2 separate regions of the Homo sapiens genome follow, and region 1 is linked to region 2. Evidence: fine-mapped expression QTL. Tissue or cell type: whole blood. Region 2 holds a variant in brackets; the other region holds the start of a gene. All regions are shown on one strand. Distances are between the middles of the regions.

Region 1 (2,500 bases), 44 kb after region 2:
GGACAGCTGGTGTCCCCGCGACCCGCACGGCTGCACCGCTTCTGGGAGGGGCTGCCCGCCCAGGTGAGGGTGGTGCAGGCCGCCTATGCTCGGCACCGAGACGGCCGAATCCTCCTCTTTAGCGGTGAGTGGGGCCGGCGGCGGGGCGCGCTGGGGCCGGCGCGGGGAGCCCACCCCTGACCTCCCGGCCTCCACCCTGCAGGGCCCCAGTTCTGGGTGTTCCAGGACCGGCAGCTGGAGGGCGGGGCGCGGCCGCTCACGGAGCTGGGGCTGCCCCCGGGAGAGGAGGTGGACGCCGTGTTCTCGTGGCCACAGAACGGGAAGACCTACCTGGTCCGCGGCCGGCAGTACTGGCGCTACGACGAGGCGGCGGCGCGCCCGGACCCCGGCTACCCTCGCGACCTGAGCCTCTGGGAAGGCGCGCCCCCCTCCCCTGACGATGTCACCGTCAGCAACGCAGGTGGGGAGCGCGGTGACCTGCGGGTTACTGGGCCTGGGGGTGGGGAGAGGGATGTGGGGAATGGGGACATGGAGGCCACCCTGCGGGGATGGGGGTCCTTGGGCATCAGGGAGCGGCGGGGCGGGGAGGGACCGGGACTCAAGCTCTGCTCCTCCAGGTGACACCTACTTCTTCAAGGGCGCCCACTACTGGCGCTTCCCCAAGAACAGCATCAAGACCGAGCCGGACGCCCCCCAGCCCATGGGGCCCAACTGGCTGGACTGCCCCGCCCCGAGCTCTGGTCCCCGCGCCCCCAGGCCCCCCAAAGCGACCCCCGTGTCCGAAACCTGCGATTGTCAGTGCGAGCTCAACCAGGCCGCAGGACGTTGGCCTGCTCCCATCCCGCTGCTCCTCTTGCCCCTGCTGGTGGGGGGTGTAGCCTCCCGCTGATGGGGGGAGCCATCCAGACCGAACAGCGCCCTCCACGGCCGAGTCCCCCGCCGCTGGACCTGGTCGGGGGTTGTGAGGCGCTGCGGAGGCCCCTTGTCTGTTCCCACGGACGGGGGCTCGGGCGCGGACTAAGCAGGGGGGATCTCCCGCGCAGGGGCGGCGGCGGCGGGGACCGGTCGCCTGGCGCTGGGCTCAGTCTCCTCAGGGTCTGAGACCCCGGCGCTGCCACCGGAACCCGCCTTCAGGGGCGCACGCGCGCTGGGACCATGCGTCGGTCGTCGCCCCCGTCGTTCCCTCCCGGCTGCCGCCAGGGGGCGGTCGGACCCCGCCTCCCGAGCCCGGGGAGGGGCGGGGAGGACAAGGGGCGGGCCCGCGGCCTCACCCGGAGGGACGGCAGCCCCGGTCGCGCGCTGGCCCCGCAGGACCTTCCTTTTCCAGGAAGAGCCAGCTTTTCTCGGAGCGCAGTCCTGGGACTCTCCGCAGCCCCGCCCCGCCTGGCCACTGCGTCTGGCATTCCTGGGTCGTTAGAGGACAGGCCTGACTGCGAAGCTGTGCCTTGCCCCTCTCCCACCCGCAGTTTCTCACCCCGTTCTGCTCCCACAAGGCCCCCCTACAGTCACTGCCACACTGGTGGGGACCTGGGACCCAGACCCGGAACCAGCCCAGATATCACCCCTGAGGACCCATGCGCCACGTCCTGGGTGGTGGAATCAGTGGCTGGAGGGACGACCCTTGCTCTCCAGGCTGTTAACCTTTTCCGTTGCTCCCCCGCCACCCACCTCCTCCTCCCCAGGCCACCCAACTTGGGCACCTCCCTGGGCCCAGAACTGCCTTCCATTCAATGGGGAACCCTTCTATCCCCAAGAACCCCTTCCCTGCTTGCACCCTGGAGAGAACAGCTTGACTCCCATCAACTCAACGCTGGTGGAAAGACAGGGACCGAACCCTGGCTCAGGCCTGGTCATTGCCTCCTCAGCACTCCCTCCTGGGAGGCCTTAGCTCTAGAGTGAGGGGTGGGTGGAACCTGGGGGCACCTCGTTCACCCTGTCCCCACTCCCCACAGTTTTAGGATCTAAATGATTGCCTCTGGAACTATTCTTCTAGACTATCCCACATCAGAATCACTGGGAAATTTAAGTTTGCAGATCCCACACTCACCCTGAATCCTCACTCAGGGTGGGGTCAGGAATCTGCATTTTAACTAGTCGCGGGGATTGTGGGGGGCAGTAGCTGGCTGTTTCGTGGCATTTCTGTGGCTCTGCAGTGTTCCTCCACCCCAGGACCAATATGTTCAGGCCACACCGATGGCCTGAACCCCATGGGTAGAGTCACTTAGGGGCCACTTCCTAAGTTGCTGTCCAGCCTCAGTGACCCCCTAGTGCTTCCTGGAGCTGAGGCTGTGGGCGGCTGTCCCAGCAACCATGCGAGGGGTTGCCCCAGTTGCTCATACAAACAGATCAGCATGAGGACAGAAGGCAGGAGACTTTGGTCAGTTACCTGGGAATTCTGGGCTGCCAGGAAACGATTTGGGCCTCTGTCAGTTTCTTTTCCATGTATGAGGAGGGGGAAATTTGTATATTAGAAACTTATTCATCCCACTCAGGACAATAA
Region 2 (2,750 bases):
GCCCAGGACACTGGCTGGCCTTCCTTCTCTTCTGAGCCCTCCCCTGCCCCAGGAACCCTGGCCTCACCAAAACAGCAGCAGCTCGTTGGCTCCAAAACCAGGGAGCAGACCATGCCCTCCCAACCCTGGAGTTGTCAGGGAGGGCCTGCCCATCACCTCCCTCTCCCCAACATCCCCACCCTCGAGTTGGAAATAAAGAGCATTTGTAACTGGGCTCCCTCTAATCTGTGCGCCGCCGCTGGGGCTGGGCAGGCACAGCCAGGTGGCCTCCCTTGGTGGCTGTCAGGCCAAGGTCTGGCTCTAGGTTCTGCCTGGTGGGTATGCTCACTCAAGCCACGGGGAGAGGGGATCGTGACTCACTTATGCCCATCTCTTCCCCTAGCCAGGGTGGGCACTCAGTAACCCGCTGCAACACCAAATGCACTAACAAAACATGCTTTATTTGATAAAAATGTGAGTGTAAAGGGGGTGAGACGAGGGGGGCAGGGCAGAAGGGTGCAGTGTTGGAGGTGGGGGCGGGGGTCTACATAGCTGGGACCTGGCCCTGGGGGGTGGACGTCTTATCAGGACGGAGGAAACAGAGGTCAGAAGTTCCGGAGGTGGGCAGTCCTTTGTTAACAGATCATTTGTTTTTCCAGGGGTGAAGAGAGGAGCTCCAGAGACCTGAGTAGGATGGGGGGCAGCTGTCCAGTGACATCTAGGGAAGCCCAGCCCCCAGCAGCAGCAGGAACTCTTGGGGACAGTCTGTCTTGTTGCAAAGCCAGCACAGCAAGCAGCCTCCGCATTAGTTCCATAGCTTGACTGGCTTCTAAGATGGGCATGTCAAGATCCAGAATCTCAAAGCATCCCCTCTTTGGCTCCATCATCCAAGGGTGAGAAACAGCAGAGCCTAAGTGAGAGTCTGAGTCAACACCTTGGCTCAGTTTTCAAATGAATTTTAAATATCCTCAGTCAAAAGAAAAATAGCAGGAGGCAGAAACAAAAGGTACGAACCCATCCCAAAGCTGTTGGGCACTGCCACTTCTGGATGGCTCTAGCGCCAGCGGAGCCCCCATTCCCCTCCACGTCAGACGTAATTCTTGGTAGGGTACTCAGAGGGCCCCCGAGAGATGGCAGGGGCAGATGTTGAGTAGCGGGCCATGTAATGGCTGGGGCCCTGGGACCCCCCCGAGGGGCAAGTGCAGCACAGCAACCCCCCACCCAGCAACAAAAGGCCTGAGGCCGCCCAGCCCAAGTAGAGGGAGGCCCCCAGCTCCCGCTTTTGGGCCTCAGCCACCAGGGGGTTATAGAAGTCCCGGATGATGGCATGCGCCGTCCAGCACACGGGGATTAGCGTCAGGACCCCTGAGATGACAAAGACAATCCCAGAGGTGAGCACCAGGCGGGCCTTGGAATCCTTCTCCTCCACACAGGTGGTACACTTGGCCCCAGCAAGGTAGACCAGCAAGCCGAACAGGGCCACAAGGAGGGCGATGACACAGAGGGCACGTGCAGCCTGCAGGTCCTGTGGCAGCGCCAGCAGTGAGTCGTACACCTTGCACTGCATCTGGCCGGTGCTCTGCACCACGCAGGACATCCACAGGCCCTCCCACACCACCTGGGCCACCACGATGCTGTTGCCGATGAAAGCGGTCACCTTCCACATGGGCAGGGCACAGGAGACCAGGCCATTCACCCAGCCCAGCAG[T/C]GTCAGGACGACTCCCAGGATCTGCATTCCGGCAGAGGCCATGGCGAGGTTGAAGGAGCTGCACTGTGTTTGGGACAGAAGCACAACAAGGTGAGGCCTGGCAGGCCCAGACCTCAGGCCACATGTGGACAGGACTCTAGGGGCATGCACCCTGGAAAGTGGTCATCACATCCTGGAACTCAGTCAAGACATGCTCCCTGAGCCTCACTTCTCGTGGGCAAAATGGACACTTAATGCTTTAGCATTTATTATTCTTTCTAGTTATGTGACAGGCACTGGCTGATGACAGTGACTGTGCAAGCAGCCCTGCCCTGGCTATCCTGAATGCAAATGAAAGATAACAGGATGAAACCTATACAATGACAGTCCAAGGCCAGAGCCAGTGATCAGGCTGCAAGGCGGCAAAAAGCAGGATGACAGGACGGTGCGATTTCCAAGCAGTTTCCGTGTAGAATGGTTCAATTCTAGCCCTGAGTTTAAGGCTCAAAACTTGTCCATTTGTTTTGTTTGTTTGTTTGAGACGAGGAGTCTCGCTCTGTGGCCCAGGCTAGAGTGCAGTGGTGCCATCTCCACTCACTGCAACCTCTGCCTCCCAGGTTCAAGCGATTCTCCTGCCTCAGCCTCCCAAGTAGCTGGGATTACAGGTGCACACCACCACGCCCGGCTAATTTTTTTTTTTTTTTTTTAAGACGGAGTCTCGCTCTGTCGCCCAGCCTGGAGTGCAGTGGCGGGATCTCGGCTCACTGCAAGTTCTGCCTCCCCGGTTCACGCCATTCTCCTGCCTCAGCCTCCCGAGTAGCTGGGACTACAGGCGCTCACCACCACGCCCGGCTAATTTTTTTGTATTTTTAGTAGAGACGGGGTTTCACTGTGTTAGCCAGGATGGTCTCGATCTCCTGACTTCGTGATCCTCCCGCCTCAGCCTCCCAGAGTGCTGGGATTACAGGCATGAGCCACCACACCTGGTCTTAATTTTTGTATTTTTAGTAGAAACAGGGTTTCATCAAGTTGGCCAGGCGGGTCTCGAACTCCTGACCTCAGGTGATCTGCCCGCCTCAAGCCT

What was found. PIP is the estimated chance that this variant, and not a neighbour inherited with it, causes the effect.
Region 1: it holds the start of MMP25-AS1, and the variant in region 2 is fine-mapped to the expression of MMP25-AS1 in whole blood (TOPMed, PIP above 0.99).

The regions. Positions count from the first base shown.
Region 1 is chr16:3,058,210-3,060,709 of GRCh38, forward strand. MMP25-AS1 (MMP25 antisense RNA 1) reads right to left here and starts at 1,161. Exons shown (of 5, transcript NR_123723.1): 1 at 787-1,161; 2 at 331-493. It overlaps MMP25 (matrix metallopeptidase 25), which reads left to right. Exons shown (of 10, transcript NM_022468.5): 8 at 1-124; 9 at 203-460; 10 at 618-2,500. The coding sequence ends at 889. It overlaps LOC124900372 (sialidase-like), which reads right to left and starts at 1,161. Exons shown (of 3, transcript XM_047435000.1): 1 at 787-1,161. RefSeq lists silencers at 31-80, 111-240, 381-430, 891-1,360 and an enhancer at 1,399-2,304.
Region 2 is chr16:3,014,293-3,017,042 of GRCh38, forward strand. It overlaps CLDN9 (claudin 9), which reads left to right. Exons shown (of 1, transcript NM_020982.4): 1 at 1-213. It overlaps CLDN6 (claudin 6), which reads right to left. Exons shown (of 2, transcript NM_021195.5): 2 at 420-1,750. The coding sequence starts at 1,729. The coding sequence ends at 1,067. Among named protein-coding and RNA genes, the nearest start is that of CLDN6, 2.5 kb to the right of the region's middle. RefSeq lists a silencer at 1-58 and enhancers at 915-1,479, 2,699-2,750. The variant T/C (reference allele first, on the strand shown) is at 1,688.